Homo sapiens: one gene and its partners. The protein of the gene in region 4 purifies or fractionates together with the protein of the main gene of each other region. This does not show direct contact. Each region holds a gene or a part of one and is shown on either strand. Other genes may lie near its edges.

What was found.
Region 1: the proteins of CLCN5 (region 4) and SLC12A4 fractionate together in Homo sapiens (co-fractionation; one large-scale study listed by BioGRID). This does not show direct contact.
Region 2: the proteins of CLCN5 (region 4) and ACVR1 purify together in Homo sapiens (co-immunoprecipitation; one large-scale study listed by IntAct). This does not show direct contact.
Region 3: the proteins of CLCN5 (region 4) and LYSMD4 fractionate together in Homo sapiens (co-fractionation; one large-scale study listed by BioGRID). This does not show direct contact.
Region 5: the proteins of CLCN5 (region 4) and PRKAR2A fractionate together in Homo sapiens (co-fractionation; one large-scale study listed by BioGRID). This does not show direct contact.
Region 6: the proteins of CLCN5 (region 4) and PKN2 fractionate together in Homo sapiens (co-fractionation; one large-scale study listed by BioGRID). This does not show direct contact.
Region 7: the proteins of CLCN5 (region 4) and MCOLN1 fractionate together in Homo sapiens (co-fractionation; one large-scale study listed by BioGRID). This does not show direct contact.

Annotation. Positions count from the first base shown.
Region 1 is NC_000016.10:67,961,876-67,966,153, forward strand, and holds part of SLC12A4 (solute carrier family 12 member 4), read right to left. Parts: intron 2,178-4,278; exon of another isoform or gene 2,153-2,177; coding exon of another isoform or gene 2,056-2,152; intron 1,685-2,055; coding exon 1,590-1,684; intron 1-1,589. UniProt on the Homo sapiens protein: Mediates electroneutral potassium-chloride cotransport when activated by cell swelling. May contribute to cell volume homeostasis in single cells. May be involved in the regulation of basolateral Cl(-) exit in NaCl absorbing epithelia.
Region 2 is NC_000002.12:157,735,189-157,738,159, forward strand, and holds the end of ACVR1 (activin receptor type-1 precursor), read right to left. Parts: intron 2,478-2,971; coding exon 2,343-2,477; 3' UTR 1,258-2,342; downstream 1-1,257. UniProt on the Homo sapiens protein: Bone morphogenetic protein (BMP) type I receptor that is involved in a wide variety of biological processes, including bone, heart, cartilage, nervous, and reproductive system development and regulation.
Region 3 is NC_000015.10:99,729,870-99,733,713, reverse strand, and holds the start of LYSMD4 (lysM and putative peptidoglycan-binding domain-containing protein 4), read left to right. Parts: upstream 1-1,706; 5' UTR 1,707-1,714; coding exon 1,715-1,996; exon of another isoform or gene 1,997-2,291; coding exon of another isoform or gene 2,292-2,356; exon of another isoform or gene 2,357-2,505; coding exon of another isoform or gene 2,506-2,541; exon of another isoform or gene 2,542-2,919; intron 2,920-3,844.
Region 4 is NC_000023.11:49,925,360-49,929,637, forward strand, and holds part of CLCN5 (H(+)/Cl(-) exchange transporter 5), read left to right. Parts: intron 1-4,278. UniProt on the Homo sapiens protein: Proton-coupled chloride transporter. Functions as antiport system and exchanges chloride ions against protons. Important for normal acidification of the endosome lumen. May play an important role in renal tubular function.
Region 5 is NC_000003.12:48,771,195-48,775,472, forward strand, and holds part of PRKAR2A (cAMP-dependent protein kinase type II-alpha regulatory subunit), read right to left. Parts: intron 1,915-4,278; coding exon 1,761-1,914; intron 1-1,760. UniProt on the Homo sapiens protein: Regulatory subunit of the cAMP-dependent protein kinases involved in cAMP signaling in cells. Type II regulatory chains mediate membrane association by binding to anchoring proteins, including the MAP2 kinase.
Region 6 is NC_000001.11:88,827,003-88,831,280, reverse strand, and holds part of PKN2 (serine/threonine-protein kinase N2), read right to left. Parts: intron 2,801-4,278; coding exon 2,658-2,800; intron 1-2,657. UniProt on the Homo sapiens protein: PKC-related serine/threonine-protein kinase and Rho/Rac effector protein that participates in specific signal transduction responses in the cell.
Region 7 is NC_000019.10:7,529,033-7,533,310, reverse strand, and holds part of MCOLN1 (mucolipin-1), read right to left. Parts: intron 4,211-4,278; coding exon 4,109-4,210; intron 3,722-4,108; coding exon 3,599-3,721; intron 3,026-3,598; coding exon 2,810-3,025; intron 1-2,809. UniProt on the Homo sapiens protein: Nonselective cation channel probably playing a role in the regulation of membrane trafficking events and of metal homeostasis. Acts as a Ca(2+)-permeable cation channel with inwardly rectifying activity.

The DNA of each region.
Region 1 (4,278 bases), on a different chromosome or scaffold from region 4:
ACACCCCAGCACGTGGCACTCAAAGGCCCAGCCCCGCGGCTGCTTCTCTCTACCCCGCCTTGGCTACAATCACTGCCAGCCCATTTGTGAAAACCACCTGCCTCAGGGGAGAGAGGGCAGGGAAGAACACGGCTGGCAGGGGGGCAATGGCATACTTCATCCTGCCTGCTCTGCCCAGCCACCTCCTGGCTATGGCTGCACCTCTAGGACTCACGCCTACCCTCCCCACAAAAAAGCCACTCTAGTCACCTCAGGGAACCAAAGAGGGCAAAAGAGTGATGTCTGGGACAAGTGAAGTCTCCCTTGTCTGCCCAAACCCTGATCTCCCTGGATGGTCTTCCCCTGACCCCAGTCCTGCAAGTACCCACATCAATCGCGGAGATGGGATCCTGATCCTCCAGCCCATCCTCAGGCGGGGCTGGGCCAAGGCCTTCACCGCAGAACCTTGCTGCTTTCCCAGGTCAGGAGGCCTCCCAGAGCTCAGGTCCCCCAGCCCCACCGGGGTCTAGGCGATGATCCCTGCTCCTGCAGCCTTCTCGAGGCTGTGCTTCTACCTGCCTCCTGCCCACATTTAGCTTTTCCCTCTCTGTCAGCTCCTTTCTGACCTACACACAGGGAGAAGTTGCTTTGGTGTGAGAAAGGAAGACGAGGGCCCTTGGGGGCATGTGGAGATTAAGGAGCCTCGGCCAGATGTGGTGGCTCACAGCAGTAATTCCAGCACTTTGAGAGGCTGAGCAGGAGGATCACTAGAAGTCAGGAGTTCAAGACCAGCCTGGCCAACACGGTGAAACCCCGTCTCTAAAAACACAAAAATTAGCCAGGCATGTGGTGGGCACCTGTAATCCCAGCTACTCGGGAGGCTGAGGCAGGAGAATCGCTGAGCTTGGAAGGCAGAGGTTGCAATGAGCTGAGATCGCGTCACTGCACTCCAGCCTGGGGCGACAGAGTGAGACTCCATCTCAAAATGAAGAAAGAGAAAAAAAAGGCAGATTAAGGAGTCTCCATTACTCAGCCATGCAGTGGCTGAATGCATGGGTCAGAGTTTAGGAGCTTAAACTACGTCTTAAATCCAGATCTCACTGCTCAGCTTGAGTCTGAAGAAGATAAAACTCAAGTACAGAGGCAGATATTTGGGAATCTTTCCAGAGACGTATCCCCTAAAGCTGCAAATGGACCAGGACTCAGGGAACTAGAGAGGGACAGAGCTGGAAGGGTCAACCAAGAAAGACAAGGAAGAATCCATGGGAGAGCGAAGAACCATGGACTTGGAGAAGAACCAGGAGTGGAAGGAAGAGGAGAAATCCTGAGTTGGGAAATCCTAAGCGGGCGTTTCCTTGCTGAGGGGTTGTAAGGAAGTCAGAGGTGAACCACCCTGGAGGTAGCAATGGGGGTGGGATTGTGAGTGGCCTCTGGAAAGGCAGTTTCAGTTGAAAGGGCCAAGGGAACTGCAGCCCGGCTGCCATGAGAACCAGGAACACAAGAGGAGATGAGAGGAAGAGCAAGACAGAGGAGGCCCACGTGTCCAGCCTGCCTGCTTAGCTAAAGCCTCTGTGTGCCAAACCTGTGGCCCAAAATGGCTCCTCAGCTACCTCAAACAGTGCCAGGTTCCTGTCATAGTAGTCAATTCCTCTGGAAGCCTCCAAGGGGGAAAGAAAAGGGCTGCTCTCTCTGTGGTTGCCATGTCCTGTGAAGAGAGAGGGACAATCAGGGCCTGCTTCCTGAGCCCCCCAGCCTGGGCCCCTTCCCAGAAAGCCAGTCCCCAAATCATTTCTGTGGAGCACTTTGGAGCTGCAGTGTCACCAGGTTGCAACTCAGTTTTCACATGGCACCGTGCCAATGCTCTTGAAGGCCCAGGGATAGCCAGAGAGAGGCCAGTGACCAAAACCTGGGACATCATTCCCTCCAGTGAAGGGAATCCAGGTGAGGGCGCAGGCGCCCTAGCACAAGCACGTATGGACACTGAGGGACGGGGCCTGCAGAGGGGCGGGGCCAGCGTTTGACCCGCCCCCAGATCGCCTCCACGCCCCAGTCCCTTTCCCGGTCTTTCCGGAGTACCCAATGTGCAGGATGCCAAGGGTTCGGTGTCCTCAGGGACCGCCCAGGCAGTGCCCTCCAGATAGACGAAGCCGCACACAGCACCTTCGGCTGCCATGGCCCAAAGGTGGCCGGCTGGCTACCCCACCATGCACTGCGCGGGGGGCGTCCTGCAGGGCAGCCCGGGGCATGCCGGGAGGTGGGGCAAGCCCCAGGCCGTGGAGAGCGGAAGTGGATTCCAGGAGCCTTCTAGGGTTGCCTAAGAAAGTCGGACGGGTGGGTGTCGGACTGAGCAGGGAGAAAAATGGGAGCTGGGACTGCTGGCAGGAGCAACACAATGGCCCCCTTGCCCGCAGATCCCGCCGCTTGCCCCAGGCAAACCTCCGCCTACAGCCCTAGGCTGATGAGCCAGTGCCCCAGCTCTGAGAAATCTCGCCAAAAGGAGTGAAATGCTCCTTTTCAATAAGCCTGCCTCAACTCCCAAAGCTCGACTGTTTTTTCTGGCCTCCTATCATTCATTCTTCCCTGTTTTCCAACTCTTGTCCCTTATGAGTCTCGGTGGGTGCCATTCCCAGCTTCCCACCAAGCAGAACGCCAAGCACTCGTTTTCTAGGTGCTGAGTGTTCCCTCCACCCCAGCTACCCTCGCAGCCCCGGCCCTGGCTCAAGGCCTCACAGCAAATGGAAAGCACACATCTTGGTGTTGGATGGCAGCAGTATGTAGTTCTGACATGAGAAGGACTGGCATGGTGTCCAGTGATGGAGATGGCAACAGAACTGTCACCACCAGCCCAGGCTAGTGGTGTGATTGGGCCATGCACTGGCCATGCCCGCCAACCTTTTCTGTTTACATAGGCCACAATTCATTTTTCTTGACTGCAGCTGAGAATGCTGATTGAGGCATCCTCCTGTATCTGATACATCTCTTGCTATCAGCATGAGGCTTCAATTGCTTTCTCTGAGCCAACAACCACTCAGCAGGTGCTGTGCTGTGGATTCTTTATCCCCCAAGGAAACTAACAAATCAAGTGTGCCCATGACAGTTTCTGGGGCAAAGTCAGTTCTTCCTTCCCACAGCATGTGAAAGTGGCACACCTGCTACACCCAGCAACCTGGACTAGCTAAGTGAGCCAAGCAGCTCAGCCCCACATTCACATAGGTCAATGCCAATGGCACAGTGGACAAAGGCAGCCAGAGGTCAAGACAGTCCACCGTGTCATGTTAAAGCCAGGCGGGGTCATGTCGGACACTCTATGATATCTGCTGTACCCTCCATGCTTGTTCAGGATCAGAAGGAGTCCCAAGAAAAATCTGAAAACCCAGTAACACTCTGCCTCTTACATTAATGACATTAATGGCTCTTCAGTGAAAAGCCTTTGAAAATTACTTTTGGATTTTTGTGACAAAAAAAGTGTCTCCCTTTGATAAATCAGGTGCTTCATTTTGTCAGAAAATGCCAGTTATACAGCTCGTCTTACTTCTCTTTCTGCTTTGGCTGCCAGGAATCTCCAAGCTAAATTTACTCTTTAGATAAAGTCACCATCTGTCTCACCTGAGTGCTTGCCCCCTTCCTCTGCATGGTTTTCAATCTTCCTGAGAGTAACAATCACTTGGGGAGACACTTTTGTTGGCTATTTCTTCTGATTCTTTTGTGGAAGTAGGCTGGAAATCAATTATAATTTATTCTAAACTCATGTACTACAGCCTGCCCCATCACTGTTGCCTGGTCTTTCTGGGTAGACTGTATTGCTATCCAGAAAATATACAGCTGAGCACACAGCAGCTCCCCACAAATGCCTGTAAATGGTCCTCTAAGACCTAGCCTATCCCTTGTCCCTTCAGCTATCACTCTAGGATGGCTCGGGGCCCTTCCAAAAGTTGTCTCTAGTTCTCACAGCAACATTCCAGTAGAGAGCATTTACTACCTTTTAGGGACAAGGAGAGTGAAGCTCAAAGATGTTCAGAGGCAAGGTCACCCAGGGAGAAGGCCACATCTGGGTCCCAGGGTCCATCAGAGCCCTGTAGGGGCGGAGCTGCAGGTTCCGTTCCTACTACAGACTCCAGTCCATCTATGCAGCACAATCTTTAAAAATAGAGAAGAGTGCTGCAATTTGGCCAGGGTACGCATACCTAGGCCTCTGGGCATTCAGACTGCGGCAGACTGGCTTGGATTCCCAGACCTTCCCCCGTGTGACCCAGGGAGACATGCTTACTCCCTGTGCGGCCTTGGTTTCCTCTTCTATGA
Region 2 (2,971 bases), on a different chromosome or scaffold from region 4:
GGGTTGGAGAGTGAGGTAGCAGCAAGAGGGAGACTTCTGGCATGCTCTGCTTCCTCATCTGGGTGCTGCTTCCATGGATGTAATAAATTCATAAAAATTCATCAGGTTGTACACTTTTATATATGTATACTTTGATATATGTAATATTTTAATAAAAGTTAAATGTAATGCCATTCCATTTCTGGGCATATACCCAAGAGAATAGAAAGCAAGAACTCAGACATTTGCACACTCATGTTCATGGTGGCATTATTCACAAAAGCCAAAAGATGGAAGCAATTCAAGTGTCCCTCAGTGGATGGATGGATAAACAGTTTGTATATACAAATGTGGAGTATTATTCAGCCTGAAAAAGGAAGGAAATTCAAACACATGCTACAACATGAATGAACCTTGAAGATATAATGTTAAGTAAAATAAACCAGTCTCACAAAAGGACAAATACTACATGATTCCATGAGGTGCTTAGAGTAACCAAACTCACAGAGACACAGAGTAGAATAATGGTTGCCAGGGACCAAGGAGGGAGGAATGGGGAGTTACTGTTTGACAGATATAGTTTCAGTTTCACGTGAGTTCTGTGGATAGATGATGGTGATAGTAGCACAAGGTGAATGCACTTAACATACACTTAAAAATTAGTAAGTTTTATGTTATCTGTAACACAAATTAAAATTTTGATTTGTAATTTAAAAAAATGTCATTCTAATATATACCCTCCAAGTAAATACATCCTAATGAAGTTATTAACTTACCTCTGGAAGACATTCCGGCATGTTCACACCTCTTCTCTTATTGGGCTACTGTTAACTCTACCTTTTAATCTTGTGTACAAGCAGTGAAAAAACCGAGAACGGACTCTCCCAAGCAGCAAGGGCGGATGCATAAGACCACTTTACACTCACGTGGAACCTTTCACTCAACAAAATGCTTTAACATCCTCCTTCCCGTTTACACTCACAACACCCCCCTGTGAGAAAGGCAGGTCAGAGAGATTTGTTACCCTCACCTTACAGCTGGAGAAACTGACTGAAAAAAAAACACAAAAAAACAAAAAAATCACAGCCAAAGGAAGAAACAAATTTTCTTATACCAAATTCAAGCTGTAAGACATCCTTATGATGTCTTACATAAGTTCATGAGTAGATTTAAAAAGCAAATTCAATTTACAAATTAGTTTTGTGCTTCTATTGCTCCCATAAGAAAATGCATAATGTTACACAGATCTTTTTTATATTTTGAAAAACAATTTCACTGTTTGACTTGAAAACAGTTTATTTAATTTATACAAATAACTACTAAATACAAAAAGTAGATTAAAACAAAATAGTTATTTTTTTCTGGCAGAGTTTAAATGCACGTAATGGATAATTCTGAAGAAAATGCATTTTCCCCGTAGCGTTCAGGACTAAAATTCTACTGAAATCTTTGCTTCTAAATCAGTAATATATTCGGTGGTGTCACGTGGGTAATGGCTAAATACGTTCTGCATATGAACTGAAAAAAAGTTACAGTCTACACACATACAAATGTGAAGCACTTAAAATGTGATTTTAACTGATAATAAAAGAAAATGTCCATTTTAGAGTATAGTGTTAAAAACATTTCTGTAATAAAATCATAAGACCACATAAAAATAAGCTTTAACATATGCACAAAGCAGTTTTGTAAAAACTACTAAGTGCACAAGTAATAAATAATTTGCAAAGTTGTGTATAAACAATTCCTAATGTTCGGCATCATTGTAAACATCAGCACATGTGTAAAATGCAGCAAAGTCTGACATTACATTTTGTTTTGCCAAATTGAATTCCTATTATCCAAAGACAGACCAGTGGAGTACGCAGCCAACATTTTGGCAAGTTGGGTCTTTAAAATTAAGAGTAACAGTGCAAGTAAGGAATGCAAAGAATTCCTAGTGCAATAAAGAAGAGAAGCACAGGCAATATTGCTGATTAAAAATTCACCACCTCCTTGAGTTTCCCGTGGGGAGTGTCTAGGAGACTTGTGAAAGCTATGCAAAGCCACTGACTTAATGCCCAGATCTCTTTTAGGATTTCTCTGTGTTCCTCCAGTCCCTACCTTTGCAACAGTGTCTGTCCAACATTAGTCTCTGCAGTGTGAACAGTTCGTGAAATGCCCAGTTCACAGTCATCGAGCGAGGTTAGGGTGGTTTTGATGTCTCCCCAACACATGGCTGGGTACGACGTCTGCCTTGTCAAAGCAGCCATTTGGGGAGGGAGACAGATGGATTCCATTCTGACAACCAGTCAGGCCAGCATTAGGTCCCAGCTGGACAATGACAACAACGTCAAATCTTCCTTCTTGACACTATGAAAATGTCAACAGTCAGTTTTCAATTTGTCGAGGGAATTATCAATTTTGGTCAAAGTCTTTTTGATACGCAGTGCTGTGAGTCTTGCGGATGGATTTTGATACCAGCATTCTTTCATTAGCTTGGCCAGAGAGGTTAATGTCTGAGGAGAGAAAGAACAAACACCACAATGACAAACTGGCTTTTTAATGGCCCTGGAAGCTGGGCTGATATCATGTCTACTATTCTGAAGAACTCGCAGGTCTTGTGAAATTAGAGTTATGTTACTGTCATCTTCTTCAAGCAAATATTCAACCTTTAACCACTGATAAAGAGGCCATTCTTAGAATTTCATGAACTCTGTCCTTTGGACTCTTAATGCTACCAATTTATTAGGTAAACGACATAGGCCAGATTGGACCCCTTAATGATTTTATGGGTGCCAAAAGCAGCAATACTAACCTAGAGATAATCCTGAAATTTCCAAATAGGGTCATTTCTCATTGTTTTATACCTGCTACTACTTATGAGTAGCAATACAGGATCTTCAGCATCCAGCAGCTTGTGTTTGGGATTTCAGATATACAGAGATGGAAAGGAGGTTAAAAGCTTCACTTAAAGTCTCTTGGTTTATACATGCAGTCTTAGGGCTAATAG
Region 3 (3,844 bases), on a different chromosome or scaffold from region 4:
GGGAGGAGCTGAGGTGCCTTATTACTCCGAACAGACGCGAAAACAAGCCAGGGCCCGCGCGGGTAGACCTGGTAGGCGGGTGGGCGGGGCGAGGGCCACTTCCGGGGTGTGGAACCCTGTCGAGCCCCGCCCCGAGCCCCGCCCCGAGCCCCGCCCCGGGCCCTGTGGTCCCGGGATGAGCTCTCCGCGCAGCCAGGCTCGCTCCAGTGCCCGCCCAGCGCTGACTTCATTGGCTGCCTCCCCAGTCCCGCCCCCAGGGGGGCCCTGCTGATGTTCGTAGCCAATCCGCAGGCGCGGTGGCAGCTGCGGGTCGCGGGTCGCGGGTCGCGAGTCGCCGGTCGCCGGTCGCGGCGGAGCCTGGGCGCTGAGGTACCGGGGCCTGGACGAGGGGGCCGCGGTCTGGCTAGGGAGCCGCGCGGGCTCATGGCGGTACGGCGACCTGGCCTCGCTCGAGGGTTCGCGGGCGGGCCGCCCCTCCCCGGGCTCCTAGGGGGACGCTCCAGCTGGAGGGGCGGTGACCGCGACTGTCGTGGGCTGGCCCCAGGTGGCTAGGGTTGGGGGTCAGAGGTCAGAGGTTCTGCCCTCTGGAATGTTAGGGCCCCGCCCGTGGAGCCGTGGAGCCCTGGGGCCGGGCCGCTCCCCATTTTCCTGTCAGCTCTTGTTGAGGTGCCCCATCTTTTCGCAGAAGGGACTTGGAGGGAAGCGGGCCTGGAGCTGCTGCCGCCGCCCCTGAGCTCGGACGCGAAGGCTGGCCCCGTCCCCGGGCTGCCGCCGTGGTCCTGCAGGTGACCCTCAACCCCCCGAGGACCGCCGGCCGCCTCCCGCCTCCGGGCAGGCTCAGGAGCGCGCGGAGCGGGGTGTGGGCCTGTGACCCTCGAAGGCGTGGGCGGGGAGTAGGGGGTCGAGCTGGGGCCGCAGGCTGTCCCCGTACGGGCTGCTCCCCTGTGGCTCCGAAGCCACCTTTTTCTGAAGTTGTCAGCCCGCGTGTTTGAGATTTCGTTTCTGGAATCTCACGCGAACAATCTGGAGAGAGGAACAGGGGTCTTGCGGCTTTGGCTGTTGACTCAAGGGGAAAATAAAAACCAGACAATGGGGATGTAATGAATGCAAAGTGACCCGTGAGCAAACTGGACGCTTTTCTCCGGCTGACAGGCATGAGTTCTCCCCGTAGCTTGCCCCACATACTGTGAGTTAAACTGTGTCAAAGTAAGAGCAGTTTAGCCCCACAGTTCTGAGCAAGAGTCCTTAGCGCTGACCTTCTTAGTGAAGATACTTTGCAATGTGTAAAATATTGAATACAAAATTATTGTGCAAAGCTTCTGAGTTGAAGATTCTGAGTGCGCGGAGGCTGGCGGCAGCCCTTACTTGCCATTGCAAGGATCTCAACTTACTACTCTGAGAGCAAAAGTAGTTGTTTCTTTACAGATGTGGGTTTAGGGGAGACAGCTATGGATGAGGAACAGGGGCGGGGTTCGTTTTCTGCACAAAACGTATGCGATTAGAAAAAACAAAGGGTTTTTATTCTGCCTATCTTCTTCCATCTCAGCCAGCATAAGCACATTCTTTTTTTTCTGTTGATGATGTATGCTGAGTATTTGCAGCGATTAGGAAAAGGAATACTCTCTAACAAGACACTTCTCTTTAAACGAGGCGGTGGAGGGATGATTATGTCTTCTGTGGAATTAACCCTCCGGCTTGATTTTCAGTGAAGAAAATGAGGCACGAGGAATTGTTAACCAAGACCTTCCAAGGCCCAGCTGTTGTGTGTGGGACTCCGACCAGCCACGTATACATGTTTAAGAATGGCAGTGGGGACTCGGGGGACTCTTCTGAAGAAGAGTCTCACCGTGTGGTTTTGCGGCCCCGGGGCAAGGAGCGCCACAAGAGCGGTGTCCACCAGCCTCCCCAGGCGGGAGCAGGTGACGTGGTGCTGCTGCAGCGGGAGCTGGCCCAGGAGGACAGCCTCAACAAGCTGGCGCTGCAGTATGGCTGCAAAGTAAGACACCCCTCAGGGGCCCTGCCCCGCTCCGTTTCAAGGAACACGGGGAACTCACTGCAGGGTGGGTGCCCTTGCCGCCCTTCTTAACCCTGCCAGGCCGTCAGGAGAGGCCTGCTGTAGCAGCCAAGGACTCCCCTATTTAGCCAGAATTGGAATGCAGGTGGGAGTACCTTTAGTTCCCAACCCTGGCCCCCAAAGAGGGAGGGTTAGCGCATTTCTTTCTCTGCAGGGAACTTCTCCTTTTCCTGTTTTCTCCACACTGAAATTCTGAAACCTTTTTTCTTCTTTCGAGCACATTTTATTTTAGACCTAATGGGGCTGGAGATACCAGGCAGAATTTAATTCCGGATTTCTATGGTATGCTTGCTTTTCTCGCTGCTCTTATTTTTCTGAACCTTTCTTGGTGGTAGCTTACTTGACTTTTGGTAAAGTTTTACCTTCTCTCGTTTAGAACTGCATGGTCTTTTGTATGCTGTGTATCTATATAACCCTGTTTTTCTCTAATTATGTTTTCAGCATTCAGAGTGATTAACAATGGCAAAGTAAGTAGGAAAGTATTTCTAGAATTGCTGCATTTTCTCCTAGATTGCAACTGTTTCACTTTGCTAACACTGTGCTACAGATTTGTATGGCCTTCTCTAGGGGTATATAAGCTACTTAATTTAAGAAATCTCTTTCTCCTACAAGTGTCTTATCTAACAAGGTCCAAATGTCTGAAACATGTTGTGTGGGGTGTTGCGGTCTTTCAGGGAAATAAACAGGTTGGTCTCCGGGGACACATAGTGGTCTTTAAATTGTACTGACAATTATATTTGGCTCCGATAAGCAGCTTCTGCAGGCATACTGTGTGGCTTACAGAACATGGGCTGAAAAATGAAGCCTGTCCTACAAAGACCGGAATAGATGGAGTAGGCTTCTTGGTATGGTGATGTCTAAATCCGTAAAGAATATATAAAGCCTTTGATAAGTGATCAGTTTTCCTATTTGAAGTAAATAAATTTGCTCTTAATTTATTGAAGGCAGAGACAGAAAGATCTCAAGGGTCTCATGCATTAGATTCAGGACATAGTGAATTAAAAATGTCCCCTACCCCAAATCAGTTACAATAACAGCAGTTGCTGAATAATAATGGAAATGATTGATTTGATTGAGATCTGTTGGCTGTATTCACTTTCTAGTTTAAGTGGACTTAAGTGTTAAAAGTTTGGAGTTCATCTCTGATGCTTTTGGAAAGTTTTCAAACATTAGTTTGAGGGAGGGGTTACCCTTTGACTTACATTCTCCCTGCTTCTTAAATCTTCGTGTTTGATTATGAGAGGAGTTTGTCATGAACTTTGTTACTTGATAAAACTCACAGCATTATTCCTTTTTCCTGACAGTTAAGTACAGTAACTGTAAGTCACTTTTATTTAATAAGTTTACATGCCCCACAGTGTTTCTGGGAAAGAAAATGCCGAGGGCATATCTGTCAACTTTATTACAGGTAAACTGGATTTTGAGTGTGTCTGCAGAGCTGGCTGAGGCTGTGTGTTTGGTGAATGCTAACATCTGGCAGCCACTGAGTTCTGGCATGAGGGGGAAGGCAGGCAGATGGGGGCACTATTGCCTCAAAAGTGAAAGGTGGAAAAGGCTGCAACATTCCTTTCAGTGCCATGGTGGTTTCGCCCAAAGCGATTTGTTGCAGTCACACTTTAAACAGTTTAAGAAAGATCTGTTTTTCAAAACTGATCTTAAATTGTTCAAACCTGTAAATCTTTAGGAATATCTGATTACTAAACTATATATTGAGGTTGAGTGAAAGCCAAAAAAACAAAATTTCAGCCTAAACTAACTTTGTGTACAGCT
Region 4 (4,278 bases):
CTATTCTCTACCCTCACCCAACCGTTCCCCACCCAGCCAATGGCAGGCAGCCAGCTGTTCTTTAATTTAACCCTTTGTCTTTGCAGGGACAAAACACATTAGTTTAAAAAGAAGCTGCTGCTAGCTATAAGTTTAAATTATTTAAAAGTGGGGTTGTAGGAGAAGTAGGAAAATGCCATGCCAGCAGCATTTAAAAGAACTCCCTTCATTTAAATAAGTGATCATTGGGGGTTATATGCCAGGAGACAGGATATTTTTTCCCATTTGTGTTTTTCATTTGTTTCTGGCAAATTTCTATCATAAGATTCCCCACCATAAGGTTGGGGAGACAGATGTCACTGCCTCTCCAGCTTCATCTTCCCAATAAAAACTTTGTGATGTATGCAGTTTGAAAGAGCATATTTAATGTTACAGTGTTTATATTTGATACAATATAAACATTGAGAAGGAAAACGCCTGTTTTAATAATATGAACTACCTGAGAGCAAAGCTCAGTAGTATCTTAGCTGATGTATTACATCTCTCATGAACTTGTGAATTCCTACCACATACAAAGTTATGTTTTATTTTGAGCGGAGTTGCGGTTTGTGCCCTTTGGAGGGTTTAGGAGTCTCCACGGGTATGTGGGATTTTTATTGTTATCAAAAGTGAGTGTGGGTTTAAGAAATGATAGACAAACACTACCAAAATTGGCCTGTGACCCACAAAAAGTTAAAGACCACTTAAATGGAGTGGAATGAAATAGCTTGAATATCTAGAAATATTCAGCAGGTTGGTTAGTTGGTGGTCTAATGTATCTTTTAAAAATGTTTCATTGTGTTGGTTGTGACTTTATGTAGGCACACAAATGTAACAAGTAGTTTCCATGTATAAAGATTATCAATGAGAAGACATTTATGGAAACGGGATTTGGCCTGTATGCTTCCTTTGACTCACACAATGGGCATTTATCAAGAGCAGTTTGGATATTCTTGCTTAAATCCTGAGACATTATTTCATTCAACAAACGAAATACAGAGATGAATAAGTTGCAGGATGCTAGAAGATTCCTTGTCATCTAAAGACAGACATACAAACAAATAATTTTGCCATGTTGAATAAGTGTTAGAATAGAGAGGTACAAAAAGCAAGGGAAGCCCCGAGAAAAGCTTGATGAAGTCTGAGTTTTGAGCTGGTCTAAAAAAATGAGTAGGAGCAAATGAGAGAATTGCATTCTGGGCAGACAGAGCAGCACTGTTTGGGAAGTTCCAAGTTGCTCTGTTTGCCTCATGTGAGATGTGTAGGGGCGCGACCTCAGATGAAGCAGGGAAGGTAGTTGGAGGCCAGATAATAAAGAGCCTTGTATGTTCTAGGAAGGATTTTACACTTTATCCTGAAGACAAAGATTCTAAACAGGGAAGTAACATAATCAGATTTTGTTTTAGAAAGATTACTTTGGCAGCAGTGCTGAGCTGGAAATGATGAAAACTGGGAGTCAGTCAGGAGGTTTCTGGAATAGTTTAGGGGAGAGATGGTAAGGGTCTGAGCAGAAGCAGGGGCAGTAAGGTTAGAATGGGATTCTAGAATGTTCTGTGACTGGATGTGGCAAGAAATGGGCCTGGATTAACTACCAGCTTGGGTGCCTGGGGGCCACTGGTGCCATTCTCTGAGATGGGGAGCATGGGAGGCAGCTGATGGGCATGGGGGTGGTGCACTGGATTTGGATGACCTGTTTGGGTTGAGACACCTATGTACTGTCAGGTCAATGTTTCAAAGACAGTTTTGAAAGTACAGAACTGATATTGGCACAGATGGGGATCTAAAGTTTTGTTCCTAATGATGCATAAAGAGCTTGTATTTTTTTCTCTGTAGTTAATGGAAATGTCATTACTAGTTAATGATTTATTTTACAATAAAAACATTTTAATGTTTAACAACTCTTAATCAAAATGTCATATTTTCATAGTAAATAATGTATTTTGCAAGCCCAGGCCCTGAAATCAGATGTGCTTAAAATTACATTGAAGTGAAACCTCATTTTTCCAGCATTAGTGAAGAGGGGAGTATTCTATATAAGTAAGCTCTTTGGATAACTGCAGCTTATCCTTTGTTTTGGCTAACCTCTGAAGTAACCAGCAAAGTACGATGATAGTTTGGAAGCAGTGTGGTATGATAGTTAAATGTGTGGGTCTGAGTTCTACTCCATTGGTTCTGTCACTTGGTAGCTACGAGGCCTTGGGCAAGTAACTTAATCTCTCTGTGTGGAAGTTTTCTCCTTTACAAAATGGAGATAGTAATATAACTCATCCCATTGCTGAGTATATAGCCAAAAGAAAGGAAATCAGTATTGAAGAGAGAGCTGCACTCCCATGTATATTGCAGCACTACTCACAATAGCCAAGATAGGAAATCAACTTAAGTGTCCATCACTGGATGAATGGATAAAAAACATGTGTTACATATATTCAACAAAATATTATTCAGCCATAAAAAGAATGAAATCCTGTCATTTGCAGCAACATGGATGGAACTGGAAGTCATTATGTTAAGTAAAATAAGCCAGGCACAGAAAGATAAATACTGCATATTCTCACTCATATGTGGGAGTTAAAAAATGTGGATCTCATGAAGGTAGAAAGTCGAATGGTGGTTTCCAGAGGCTGGGAAGGGAAGGAGTTTGGGGAATGAAGAGAAGTGGGTTAATGGTTATAAACATACAGCTAGAGAGAAGGAAAAAGTTTTAGTATTCAATAGTACAGTAGGGAGACTACAGTTAACAATAATTATATATTTCAAAATGGCTTGAAGTAAAAAATTGGAATGTTTCTAACACAAAGAAAAGATAAATGTTAGAGGTGATGAATATCCCAGTTACCCTGATTTGATCATTACACATTGTATACGTGTATCAAAATATCACATATACCCCCCAAATATGTACAGCTATTATATATCAATTTTTGAAAAGGGAGAAAAGTAGAACACCTGATAGGCTTGGTGTGAAGAGAAATTAAGCTAATATATGCAGAGCACTTGGAACATAGTAAATGCCATATAAGTGTATGCCATTATTATAATAGTAAAACATTTAGAATATTGTGTAGCATATAATAAGTGCTCAGTAAAATTTAGCAATAGCCGTTATTACTACTATCACTATTATTTTCTTATAACCTGGGGTGGGACTGGGACCTTGTTCTGTGGAGGTAATTTTAGGTTGTCCTTGGAAGCCCTGTCCTGTGGTTGTCTGTTTGGGTCTTTAAGTAGAAGTTTAGACTTGAAAAGATTCTTAGAAAACATCTAGCAGCCGGGCGCGGTGGCTCACGCCTGTAATCCCAGCACTTTGTGAGGCCGAGGCGGGCGGATCACGAGGTCAGGAGATCGAGACCATCCTGGCTAACACGGTGAAACCCCGCCTCTACTAAATATACAAAAAGTTAGTCGGGCATGGTGGCGGGTGCCTGTAGTCCCAGCTACTCGGGAGGCTGAGGCAGGAGAATGGCGTGAACCCAGGAGGCGGAGCTTGCAGTGAGCCGAGATCGTGCCACTGCCCTCCAGCCTGGGCGACAGAGCCAGACTCCATCTCAAAAAACAACAACAAACATCTAGCTCAATTCCTAGAGGTTAAGTGATATGCCCAACGTCAAACAGGTAGTAGTTGATCCTAGAGCTAGTATTAAAATCCAGGTCACCTAATTCCCTATTCCAGTATTCTTTCCGTGGGCTCATGGAAGAGGCAATGTGTGAGTCTGTTCTCAGCTCAAGGAAGCTTCTGAGTCAGTCTGTAGAGCTTGTTGAGGAACCCTAAGGGCTACAGGAGCCCAAATCTCCTTAGGTTCTTGGCTCATTGCTGTCTGGTTCCTCCATGGAGAATTTGATCTGAATTCCCATACCTCTTAAATGGGGCCAACATTATTTTGACTTCACTTAATGGAGCCCTCTAATATATTTTCTGGCCACTTTAAACAGTGTACTGAGCATAATTTAATATTTTTGATAACTCAGGGTTATCATTAATAACCTCCAGCCAGTTTGAGGTTGGAGACTTGTGTTGTCAGGTGTTGTTTATTTATTCCATTAACATTTATTGAACACTACTTGTGCAGCAGGCACTCTGCTGGGCCCTAGAGACGCAATGGTCAGTGGAAACAAGTATGGTCTCTACTGTAATGGAACTTAAGAACCAGGATAAAGGTAGCACTTCAAATTAATGAAATGATTTATTTAACACATATGCTGAAGTAATTTGGAAAAAATGACAGCATAAATTTAGAAGGGTTAATATAATGTTTCTTAATA
Region 5 (4,278 bases), on a different chromosome or scaffold from region 4:
AAAAAGAAAAAAAAGAAAGAATGTGTTATTTGGCTGGGCACAGTGGCTCATGCCTGTAATTCCAGCACTTTGGGAGGCCAAGGCAGGAGGACTGCTTGAGCCCAGAAGTTCAAGACCAGCCTGAGCAACATAGTGAGACTCTGTCTCAACAACAACAACAACAAAAAGACAGGTGTGGTGGTGCACACCTGTAGTCCCAGCTACTTGGGAGGCTGAGGTGGGAGGATTGCTTGAGCTCAGGAGGTCAAGGCTGCAGTTAGCCCCTGCTCACACCAAAAACAATGTTATTTAATTTCTAAGTGTCTGGAGATCTGTTATTGATTTTTAGTTTCTTTCTTTCAATTGTAGTTAGAGAACACATTCTGATTTCATTTTTTCTTTAAATTTTCATTATTTCTTAAAATTTTAAATAGAGATGTGGTCTCACTATGCTGCCCAGGTAGGTCTCAAATTCCTGGACTCAATCCTCCCACCTCAACCTCCCAAAGTGCTGGGATAACAGGCTTGAGCCACTGTGGTTGGCCTGATTTCAAATCTTTTACATTTTTTAAGTTTTATTTTATATTCCAGGATATGGCCTATTTGGGTGAATGTTCCATGGGCTTGAAAAAAATGTTCATTCTGTTGTTGCTGTGTGCAGTGTTCTATAAATTTCAGATAGCTTTTGTTAATTAATGGTGTTAAGTTCTTCTATATCCTAGCTGACACTAGCTGATTTTCTGTTTAGCTGTTCGTTCTTTTGTTTTGTTTTGTTTTTGAGATGGAGTTTTGCTTTTGTTGAATATACCTGTTAGAAGATCTGGATTTCAGGCTTTCCAGCACCCCATCTGGGATATATGGGAACCTGGGAACTCACTGTCATGTCTTTCCTCAAGCCCCAATATCCCTAGATAGTCTGCCTTCTTCTTTCCACCTTTCAGAGTCTTCCTATGTTTGCTCTATTATGTCCATAGTTGTTTGTGTGTGTGTTTAAGTTTTTAAGTGAGAACACTAGCATGGAATAGGGCTATTCCATCTTGGTCTGAACCAGTAGTTAGCACCAAGGCTTATTATTTGATTTTGTATTTTTTGAGATGGAGTCTTGCTCAGTCGCCCAGGCTAGAGTGCAGTGGCGTGATCTTGGCTCACTGCAACCTCCGCCTCCTGGGACTACAGGCGCCCATCACCATGACTGGCCAATTTTCATATTTTTAGTAGAGACACGGTTTTACCATGTTGCTCAGGCTGGTCTCGAACTCCTGACCTCAAGTGATCTTCCCGCCTTGGCCTCCCCAAGTGCTGGGATTACAGGTGTGAGTCACCGTGCCTGGCCCCCATTATTTATTATTCCCCTATACAAATCTATTCTTGAGTTTTTCAATCATTGAGTCCCCAAGTGTGTGACCTATCCTTAAGTCACTGTATCTCTTTCAGGAGCACTCTTAATTTAACATCAGGATGTCACAATAAAGTGCTTTTTTTTTTGAGACGGAGTCTCGCTGTGTCGCCCAGGCTGGAGTACAGTGGCGCGATCTCGGCTCACTGCAAGCTCCACCTCCCGAGTTCACGCCATTCTCCTGTCTCAGCCTCCCAACTAGCTGGGACTACACATGCCCACCACCACACCTGGCTATTTTTTTTGTATTTTTTAGTAGAGATGGGGTTTCACCGTGTTAGCCAGGATGGCTGTAAGATATAGTGTAAATCAACAGCCCAAGGACAGAGACACAGAAAGGGAATTAATACTGTGCCTTGCAAGGGGAACGATTTCTCTCACTCACCAGTCCCCAAAGGGAGCCTTCTGAGGTAGCAACAATGGTAGCAGCTCTCGGGGTGTTGTACATCAGAGCTAGTTCTCCAAAACTGCCACGGTTGTCATATTGACCAACAGAGCGGGTTTGATTATCTTTTGTTACTAAAATGTCATAAGTTCCCCTAGAAGAATGACAAAGAATAATTTAATTAGTTACTTCTGATAATAAATGTTAAGAACTGGCAGGTACATATAATAGAAAATGTTGTTTTAAGAGATTTCCAATGGAACTTTGCTAGTATATAAAAAAAACATATTTTTGTATTTTGACTTTGTACTGTGTCCTATAACCTTGCTAAACTCACTTATTAATTCTAGTAGCCTTTTTGTGGCATTCTTGGAATTTTCTTTTCTTTTTTTTTTTTTTTTTTTTTTGAGACGGAGTCTCGCTCTGTCACCCAGGCTGGAGTGCAGGGGCGGTATCTCAGCTCACTGCAAGCTCCACCTCCTGGGCTCACGCCATTCTCCTGCCTCAGCCTCCCGAGTAGCTGGGACTACAGGCACGCGCCACCAGGCCCAGATAATTTTTTTGTATTTTTAGACAGGGTTTCACCATGTTAGCAGGATGGTCTCGATCTCCTGGCTTCGTGATCCGCCCGCCTCAGCCTCCTAAAGTGCTGGGATTACAGGTGTGAGCCACCACACCCGGCTAGAATTTTCTACATAGAGGATCATGTCACCTGAAACAAAGTTTTAATACTTCCTTTCCAATCTATATGCCCCTTCCTTTTTTTCCCCCCATCTTTAACTTAAACATATATATATATACACACACACACATATATACATACACATAAATATATATATACACATATATACATTTTTTGACATATATATTTTTTTGAGACAGGGTCTTGCTCTGTCACCCAGGCTGGAGTGCAGAGGCACAATCATGGCTCATTGCAGCCTCCACCTCCTGGCCCCAAGCAATCCTCTCACCTCAGCCCCCTAGCAATCCTCTCACCTCAGCCCCGAGTAGCTGTGACCACAGACGTGTGCCACCACACCTGGCTAATATTTTATTTTTGTAGAGATGGGGTCTCACTATGTTGCCCAAGCTGGTCTGGAACTCCTGGGCTCAAGCAATCCTCCTGTCTCAGCCTCCCAAAGTACTGGGATTAAAGGCATGAGCCACCATGCCCGGCCTAATTTTTTTTCTTTTATTAATATATAATATTTTACATAATTTATGGCGTACATGTGAGTGTTTGTTGCATGCATAGAATGGGTAATGATTAAGTCAGGGTAACTGGGGTATCCATCACCTTGGATATATGTCCTTTCTATGTGTCAGTATCATTTCATGTCCTCTCTTCTATTAATAGTTACTTTGAAATATGCTAAATATTGTCACCCAAGTATAGTCACCTTATCATGCTATAAAACATTAGAACTTGCCAGGTGCAGTGGCTCACACCTGTAATCTCAGCACTTTAGGAAGCTAAACTGGGAGGGTTGCTTGAGCCCAGGAGTTTGAGACAATCCTGGGCAACGTATGGAGACTTCTCTCCACAAAAAGGAAAAAAAAAAGACATTAAAATTTATTTCTTCTATCTAACTGTGTGTTTGTACCCATTAGCCAACTTTTCTTCATCCACCCACCACCCTTCTCAGTTTCTGGTATATATCATTCTATTCTCTATGTCTACGATATCAATGTTCTTTAGCATTCACATGTGAGCAAGAACATGTGGTATTTGTCTTCCTGTGCCTATCTTATTTACCTTAATATAGCAACCTCCATGTGGCTACAAATGACATGACTTCTTTCTTTTTTATGGTCAAATGGTATTTCATTGTGTACTATGCCACACTTTCTTTCTTTCTTCCTTTTTTCCTTGCCTCCCTCCCTCCCTCTCTTCCTTTCTTTGCCTTATTGCATTGACTATAACCTCCAGTACAATATTAAGTGGAAGTGGTGAAAGCAAACATCCTTGCCTTATTCTGAGTTGTAAGAAAAAACAATTTTTCACCATTAAATATGATGTTAGCTGTAGGTTTTTAATAAATGCCTTTAGTCTAGTTAGGGAAAGTTATTTTTGTTGCTAGTTTACTGAGCATTTTCATCACAAAAAGATGTTGAATTTTGTCAAATGCTTTGCTGTAGGTATTGATATGAATGCATGGGTTTTCTTTCATAGTCTGTTAAAACAAAGATTAAAACAAAGCAGGTCGGGCACGGTGGCTCAAGCCTATAATCCCAGCGCTTTGGGAGGCCAAGGTGGGTGGATCACCTGAGGTCAGGAGTTCGAGACTAGCCTGGCCAATCTGGTGAAACCCCGTCTCTACTAAAAATACAAAAATTAGCTGGGCGGGTAGCGGGTGCCTGTAATTCCAGCTACTCGGGAGGCTGAGGCAGGAGAATCACTTGAAACCTGGAGGCAGAGGTTGCAGTGAGCCGAGATCATGTCATTGCACTCCAGCCTGGGCGACAGAACGAGGCTCTGTCTCAAAACAAACAAACAAACAAACAAACAAAACGATAC
Region 6 (4,278 bases), on a different chromosome or scaffold from region 4:
ATACATTTGTTAAAATATGTAGTATCTTTTTTCTGCAAATAGATTGTAAGCAAACAGGGCTAACAACTGAAAGCTAACAAATGTGTTTTCAGCACATTTAAAGGAAACCAATAGTCTGTTCAGATGTCAACACTGACAGTATCTAAAACCATGTCCAGCATTCTGTTCAATCTCTCTGGTATCTTCACTCCCATCTGAGACAGGAAAAAGGGGACTTGCGATGTTTGTTTATTCCTGGAGTCTTTCCAGTAATCAAAACTAGTAGAAGTATACAAATCTGAACATGTATAATATATCCGGTGAGTTTACAATTATTTGTAATAATAGAGAAATCTGACATAAACTTTAGCCACACCTTACTTTCATCATAGTTAAAAAGGAGTTATCACTAGCATTTCACTAATGCTATAAAATTATGAAGTAGACTGATGAGTTTTAAGTTTAGTTCTTTTCCCAGCTACCCTCTTGTGGAGATACTAAAGAGAAATTGCAAGAAACAACTGTGAAGAAATAGCCAGATCCACTGTCTTTTATCTTCTAGGTAATTAAGAGCTCAATCAATTAGCTCTTTTAAAAAACATGAAACAGGAGCTTCCTTGTTTTCTGCCAAACCCTCCAGTGGCTTTATAATAGGAGGGAGTAGATTCAACTGGATTAATTCTACAGTATTTTGTAATAAACTCATATTTTGCACATGTCATCTCTAATATGGAGAGTAAATTTTAAGCAAGCACATAATTGAATCTCATAAATCTCATACTTACTTGAATACTACATGAAACAAAACCAAAAAAACCCTCCAAAATGTTACTGTTAAAATAAAGGAAGGGGGTGGGGAGGAGTTCAAGTATGCCAGAGCTTACAGCAGATTAACTATTTTATGAGAACTTCTGGCACTCTCAGAAAGTAAAAGCCACTGTGGACTGGAGCTAAAATAAATCTTTCCAACCTAAACACTGCACAACAGCTTTTCTAAATAGAGGTGAAAAATTCAGATCTGGACCACTAGTCTTAAGAACAGAAACAAGGCTGGATGAATTGAAGATCCTGTCCTGGAGCAGCAAAGCATAATGCTTTAGATATGCTCTGGAGCCAGAGTGACAAGGTTAAAATTCCAGCTCCACCATATGAGAGCTGTGTGACTTTAAGCAAGTCATTAATCTCTTTGTGTCTCTATTTACACCTCCGAAAATGGGCAGAAGATCAGTACTGAGCTTATTAAAGGCTGTTGCAAAATTAAATGAACTAATATTTAAGGCATACAGTACAGTGCTTAGCACATGATAAATTTTAATTAGCCATACTTCTCCTCCTTTTCCAAGGAATCCACTTCAAATTGACATACCAAAAGGGGTTATCCATCCGGCGAAACTAAAACCATTTGTTTGGGGTAAGTGCCAATAAATGACAAGCATAGAACAAAACTTTAGAAATTTCTGATATTCAATTTGATAATTTGTTCATTCAGCACTAACTTCTTCAAACTTACAAGTGTACAAGGGAGGTTGCTGGCATGGGGAAACTGCAGAATAATGAACCAATCCCTTAAAATAATTTTTCTTGCATCTCCAGTTCAAGTCCCTTCAAGTAATCTTCAATTACTTATTAAAAGATTTACTCTTTCCCAATTTCATCCCAATTCAACATTTCTAACAATTTATAACATAATAAATTATTAGTCTCCTATTATTGCCTTAACATAACTCACTGTTTCCTAATAGTAATAATTTCTATGTACAACTCAATTATCCTCAGAAATTTAAGTTAATCTACAGAAAACAGTAGGAAAAAATGCGAATTTTTTCAACTCTACCATTTTTTAAGGTAACACTTCTTTCATTTTTTTAAAATTATATTTTATTTAACAATCTAGGAAGTTCACAGCCATCAGCAGTTCTATAGCAACTTCAGGTGCAACTGGGAATTCAGGAATCTCGGTGGAGCTGTTGGTGTAGCGAATACTTTTGATAGCACATGTGAAGGTATCTCTCTCAAATTGACCTCATTGGTTTCATTCTCAGCAAATTGACCTGGGCCACTCAACATGGCTTTTATCGTGCTGATGTTAATGTACGTTCTGTTTTTACAATAAATTCATGGCCATCGGATGATATCAATTTGACATACATGGCATCAGGGCCTTCACAGCTACCATAGGTTTTCTCCTCTCTCCATCCATTTTGTTCTTACGAAATTCTACTTTGCTTCCCCAGGAACTTCAGTAGTTTCCCGGTGAAGCAAGGATGCAGAGTGTGTTGCTCAGACGGAAGTCTGGAGGAAGTCGAAGGTAACATTTATTTCTGACCAATCTATAGTGGGCTTTTCTTTACAGGTACAGAGTACATTCCTTTTATTAGTCTTTCTGTTATTCCATTCCCTATAAAATGACTATGTCTTAAAATCAGAAAACATAATAAAAGTACAATACTGAAATACAAGGAACTATTTTCAAAGCACTGATAGTGCATTCCACAAACCACATAAAAATCTTTATTGAAGGTATTACAGAAAGATAGCTGACTACTAGTATACTATAAATATTTATAAAACTTAAATTCCACTCATACTGAAGACAGTATTAGGTGGTTTTATAAATGACATGCTTTATTATTTCAATCATCCTTCCTCTGTTCTCTTACCTATTTCACACTGCTTACCTCACCAACAAGCATTTCATATATAAGCACGCCAAGGCCCCACCAATCTACAGCCCTTGTATAAGAAGTTTCTGTTAATACTTCTGGGGCAAGAAATTCAGGAGTGCCACAAAATGTGCTTGTTCTATCTCCATATCCCATTCCTGGAAAAGATAAAATGTAAACATTTGTTAGCAAAGAAAACAAATCTAGCATAAAAAAAAAATCAAAGCTATCTTTGGGAGGCAAAATTAAAGTTGCACATTTGTGCATGGTGAACAAATTCAGACATATCTAAGACATTTCAAGAAAACAGTAAGGACTGGTATAGCAAAAACTGCAATAGCAACTATACTGTCTAATTAATGGGTAAATAGAAATAAGATATCCATGTTTCTTTTCAGTTACTTTTTCTTCTTGTCATTACAAGGGAGCTAAGAAATTATAACAAAATGAACTGATTGTGAAGTTCCATTATCTTTCCAATTCAATCTTAAATAAGTTTATTTACTTCATTATAAAATCAACATTCTAAAAAAAATAAGTTTCAAAAATACCAAAAAGCAAACCCTTGGATAATCAGAAGCTGACCAAATGTGTCATATAATACAGAGAGATAGGGCCGTGTGCAGTGGCTCATGCTTGTAATCACGGCACTTTGGGAGGCCGAGGCGGGTGGATCACCTGAGGTCAGGAGTTCAAGACCAGCCTGGCCAACATGATGAAACCCGTCTCTACAAAAAAAACAAAAACAAAAATTAGCCGGGCATGGTGGCTCCCGCCTGTAATCTCAGCTACTCGGGAGGTTGAGGCAGGAGAACTGCTTGAACTTGGGAGACGGAGGCTGCAGTGAGCTGAGATTGTGTCATTGCACTCCAGCCTGGGTGACAAGAGCAAAACTCTGTCTCAAAAAACAAACAAACAAAAAACATATATATATCTCAATATATATTATATATAGAGAGAGAGAGAGGAGGGGACGGGAGGGGAGGGGAGAAGAGGGGAGGGAAGGGAAGGGAAGGGAAGGGAAGGGGAGGGAAGGGAGAGTACAGGTTGAACATCCCTAATCCAAAAATCCAAAATCTAAAATGCTTCAAAATCTGAAACTTTTTGGGCACCAACATGATGCCATAGAGAATTCCGCAAGTACTTAAGATTAGTTTCATGCACAAAATTATTAAAAATATTATATAAATTTACCTTCAGGCTATGTATAAGGTATATATGAAACATATATAAATTTTGTGTTTAGACTTGGGTCTTGGCCTCAAGATATGTCATTATTTATATATGCAAATATTCCAAAATCCAAATAAATCTGAAATTCAAAACATTTCTCATTCTAAGCATTTTGGATAAGGGATACTCAGCCTGTATTAACATTTTGGCTAACTAGTTTTTAAATATATGTTCCTCATAATTTATTAATATGTTAATCAAATATATAGTCTACATATTGAAGATATTATCTCTATGTATTCCAAAGTGTTAAAAACTTGTCATAAGTGTCATCTTTTTAAGAATTTTAAAGAAAAGCTCTCAATCCTAAATTAAGAATAATTAGGTATGCATATATAGTGACTATAAAATAGAAATGAATGTGTGTCTATGAACCAAGACCTGAAGGGCACAATTAGATACA
Region 7 (4,278 bases), on a different chromosome or scaffold from region 4:
TCTGTGTCTTTGCCTTCTGCTGTAGGTCCAGCACCTACAGACCTAGAGCCAGGGCTGACATGACCTCGATGCTCAGAAACCATCTATTGAGTGAGCTGGATGCACGCTGAGCACAGCAGTGGGAGCAGGGCCTGAGACTGCCCACCTGAGTGGATGCATGTGTGTGATGTCTACGTGCTAAGGCAAGACAGGAAGTAGTTCCAAGGGCCTGAGTCAATGTGTCTGTGGGACAGCTGAATCCATGCATGGGGAAAAGGGGGTGTACCCATCTGCCGGTGACATTGGATGTGGCAGGGTCCCAGCCAAGGCTTCCTTCCTCTCACTCGGCCTCATGGAGGGGCCATCTTTTCTCCAAGTTTTTTCAGGCTACTAGACCTTTGCTTTAGCTATTCCTTCCCCTCGGTGCACTGCCCCTGGGCTCCCATCTCTTCAGTCTAGAGGCGATGGAAGTATTCAATATCTATGCTGTCCAATATGGCAGCCACCAGCCACACTGGCTTTTGAGCACTGGATACAGGATGGTGCAAGTCAGAGGCTAAATTTGCAATTGTACTTCATTTGAATTAAAATTTTTAAAAAATTGTTGTTTTGTCTTTGAAGCAGAGTCTCGGTCTCTCGCCCACGTTGGAGTGCAGTGGCTTGATCTCGGCTCACTGCAACCTCTACGTCCCAGGTTCAAGCAATTCTACTGCCTCAGCCTCCGGAGTAGCTGGGATTACAGGTGCCTGCCACCACGTCCGCTAATTTTTTGTATTTTTAGTAGAGATGGGGTTTTGCCATGTTGGCCAGGCTGGTCTCGAACTCCTAACCTCAGGTGATCCACCCCCACCCCCCCTCGGCCTCCCAAAGGGCTGGGATTACAGGCGTGAGTCACCGTGCCCAGCCGGAATTAAAATCAAAATTTAAATAGCTGCATAGGGCTAGAGACTAGTGATGGATAGAACATTCTAGAAGCTCTCCTGGATCTCCTGTCATACCAATCTAAAGCAGGGGTCCCTCTGCAACCTTCCACTCTTCCTTCATACCTGTTACAAGTAGGTCATTGGTCATGGGATGTCTGTTCCTGTGCCATCCTTGCCCACAGGCCTTGGACGGATCATGCACACCTGATTTTCCTCCATGCCCAGAACCCAGCACAGATCTTGGCCCTTAGATATATCTGCTGAAAGAATCCTATCTACCTGCCACTTCCGCATCCTGCTCTGTCCCCTGACCCTTGCAGCTTGCAGGGAAACCACTGTTCCCAGCCACCCTACTAAACTGAGGACAGAGGGGTTAGGAGCACGGCTTCTGGAATCAGACAGCCCTGGGTTGAGCCCAGTTTTACTGCTCAGAAGCTAACCTGGGCCGGGCACAGTGGCTCACGCCCGTAATCCCAGCACTTTGGGAGCCTGAGGTGGGCGGATCACAAGGTCAGGAGTTTGAGACCAGCCTGGTCAACATGGTGAAACCCCATCTCTACTAAAAATACAAAAATTAGCCAGGCATGGTGGCGTGTGCCTATAATCCCAGCTACTCAGTAGGCTGAGGCAGGAGAATCGCTTGAACCCGGGAGGCAGAGGTTGCAGTGAGCCGAGATTGCACCACTGCACTCCAGCCTGGGTGACACAGCGAGACTCCGTCTCAAAAAAAATAAATAAATAAAGAAGCTAACCTTGGGCAGGGTCAGAGGGAGTCGGGGGCATGGCTGGGGGCTGGGGTCAGGGTTGGGTTTTTAGAGGTCCGCCATAGGAATGGGGCCAGCTGAGGATCACCATGTTAATGGCAACGTCCCAGGGTCAATGACAAGGTCATTGAAACTGTATGACTTAGCTGGGTTCAGTGGCTCATGCCTGAAATCCCAGCACCTTGGGAGGCCAAGGCAGGTGGATCACCTGAGGTCAGGAGTTCGAGACCAGCCTGGCCAACGTGGTGAAACCCCATCTCTAGTAAAAATACAAAAATTAGCCAGGTGTGGTGGCACGTGCAAGTAATCCCAGCTACTCAGGAGGCTGAGGCACAAGGATCGCTTCAACTCAGAAGGTGGAGGTTGCAGTGAGCCGAGATCATGCCATTGCACTCCAGCCTGGGCCACAGGGTAAGATTCCATTTCAAAAAAAAAATAATAATAATAGGCTGGGTGTGGTGGCTTACGCCTGTAATCCCAGCACTTTGGGAGGCCAAAGTGGGAGGATCACTTGACCTCAGGAGTTTGAAACCAGCCTGGGTAACACAGTGAGACCCTTGTCTCTAATAAAATAAAGAACAATACTTTAATAATAAAATAAAATAGGCCGGGCGTGGTGGCTCACGCCTGTAATCCCAACACTTTGGGAGGCCAAGGCAGTAGATCTCCTGAGGCCAGGAGTTTGAGACCAGCCTGACCAATGCGGTGAAATGCCATCTCTACTAAAAATACAAAAATTAGCTGGACGTGGTGGCGTGTGCCTGTAGTCCCAGCTACTCAGGAGGCTGAGACAGAATTGCTTGAACCCGGGAGGTGGAGGTTGCAGTGAGTCAAGATCGCACCACTGCACTCCACCCTGGGTGACAGAGCAAGACTCCGTCTCAAATAAACAAATAAATAAATAAACTCTATGACTCGGTTGCCCTGTTGGCAAAGACTGACTCAGGCCCCCTCCTGGCCCAAGCCCACCTTGACATCCCCCTGCGCCCCCCAGTTCTGAACCACCCTCTTTTTGGTTTCATAGAGTCTCCCATATTCTCTCCTGGGTCTTCTCTGTTCACCCTGCGGTGTCCCCAAGACCCCCTCATGGCAGACTCCAGGGCACCCAGAGCCCGAGCTCAGGGCTGGGTGCATGCGGCTGACCTTGATGGTGTCGTAGGCGCCGGTGATGAGCGCGATGAAGAGGCTGAGCACCATGTAGATGAAGAGGCTGATGAAGGAGTAAAGGTAGAGCTGGGAGAAGAGCCACACCAGGCTGCTGCGGCCCTGCTGCGCCTGCATGGCGGCGAACGTCACAAACATGTCGTCCCCATTGATGAGCGAGAACAGGCACTCAGACACCATGGAGAGTGAGCGGAACTGCCAGAGGGGCGGCGGGGTCAGAGGGAGCCAAGGCATGGCCAGGAACCGGGGGCTGGGGTCAGGCTGGGGTCCCATGCAAATGGCTAGGAGCTGGTGGCTGGGGCCCCACATGAATGGCCGGGTCCCGGGCTGCGGTCACCATGTGAATGGTCGGGTTCCAGGCTAGGGCCCCTGTGAATGGCCGGGTCCCAGGCTGGGGTCCCACGTGAATGGCCGGGACCCAGGCTGGGGTCCCACGTGAATGGCCGGGTCCCAGGCTGGGGTCACTATGTGAATGGCCAGGTCCCAGGCTGGGGTCCCATGTGAATGGCCGGGACCACGGGTCAATGACAGGGCCACAGGGCCGACCTAGGGTCTGGGTAGATAGAGCAGGAGGGGAGTAATTCAGGTCGAAATAGGGTCATCAACAACTGTGACAACAATAATGGCACAGGGTCAGTGTCAGGGTCACCAAGGACCACAGGGGACAGTGGACAGACTCCCAGCAGTCACCAAGGGGTCATCTGGGGGTCACAGTGTCAATGACAAGGTCACAGGGTCAATGTCAGGGACATCAGGGGTTAGATGTACCTTCACATGATAGGGCCCCAGCACGATCCAGCCACAGAAGCAGTAGCCCAGGTAGATGACAGCCACGCAGCAGCAGAAGCGCATGACGCTGGGCAGGGCCACCCGCAGTGTGGCGATGAGGATCTGGGTTGGGGCAGAGGGAGCCTCGTTGAGGGTGTGGCCACAACTCAGGTCAGCTGTGGGCACCCAGATGGGGGTGGGAGGGGCGGGGCCTTGCCGAGGGCACAGCCGGTGTGGTCATGGGAGCCAGTGGGTGCCTAGAGGGGGCGTGGCCACGTCTGAGGGGGTCCGAGGGCAACGCACGGCTAGACTCAGCTGGGTGGGCACAAAGGAGCAGGCTCCCGGGGCCCCGCGCAGGTGCAGTGACAGATATATCTGGTGTGGGCAGGTAGGAGGAGGAGGCTTGCAAGGGGCCATTGGCCGGGGCTGGTGAGGGCTGCGTGTGTAGGGATTTATTTGGAGGGTGTGGAGTAACCATGTGGAAGGCCCAGCTGCATGTGCAAAACTCACATTGTAGTTGTGGAAGAAGGTCAGGTAGCGGATCACGCCCACCCACACCAGCAGCGTCGAGGTGCCCAGGAGGATGCTGCAGACGTCGTAGCTCGCCAAGTTCTGCGGGTGGGAGCTGCGTCAACCTATCTGGCCCAGCCCTTCCTTTGGGGGGCCTGGGGGAGGATATG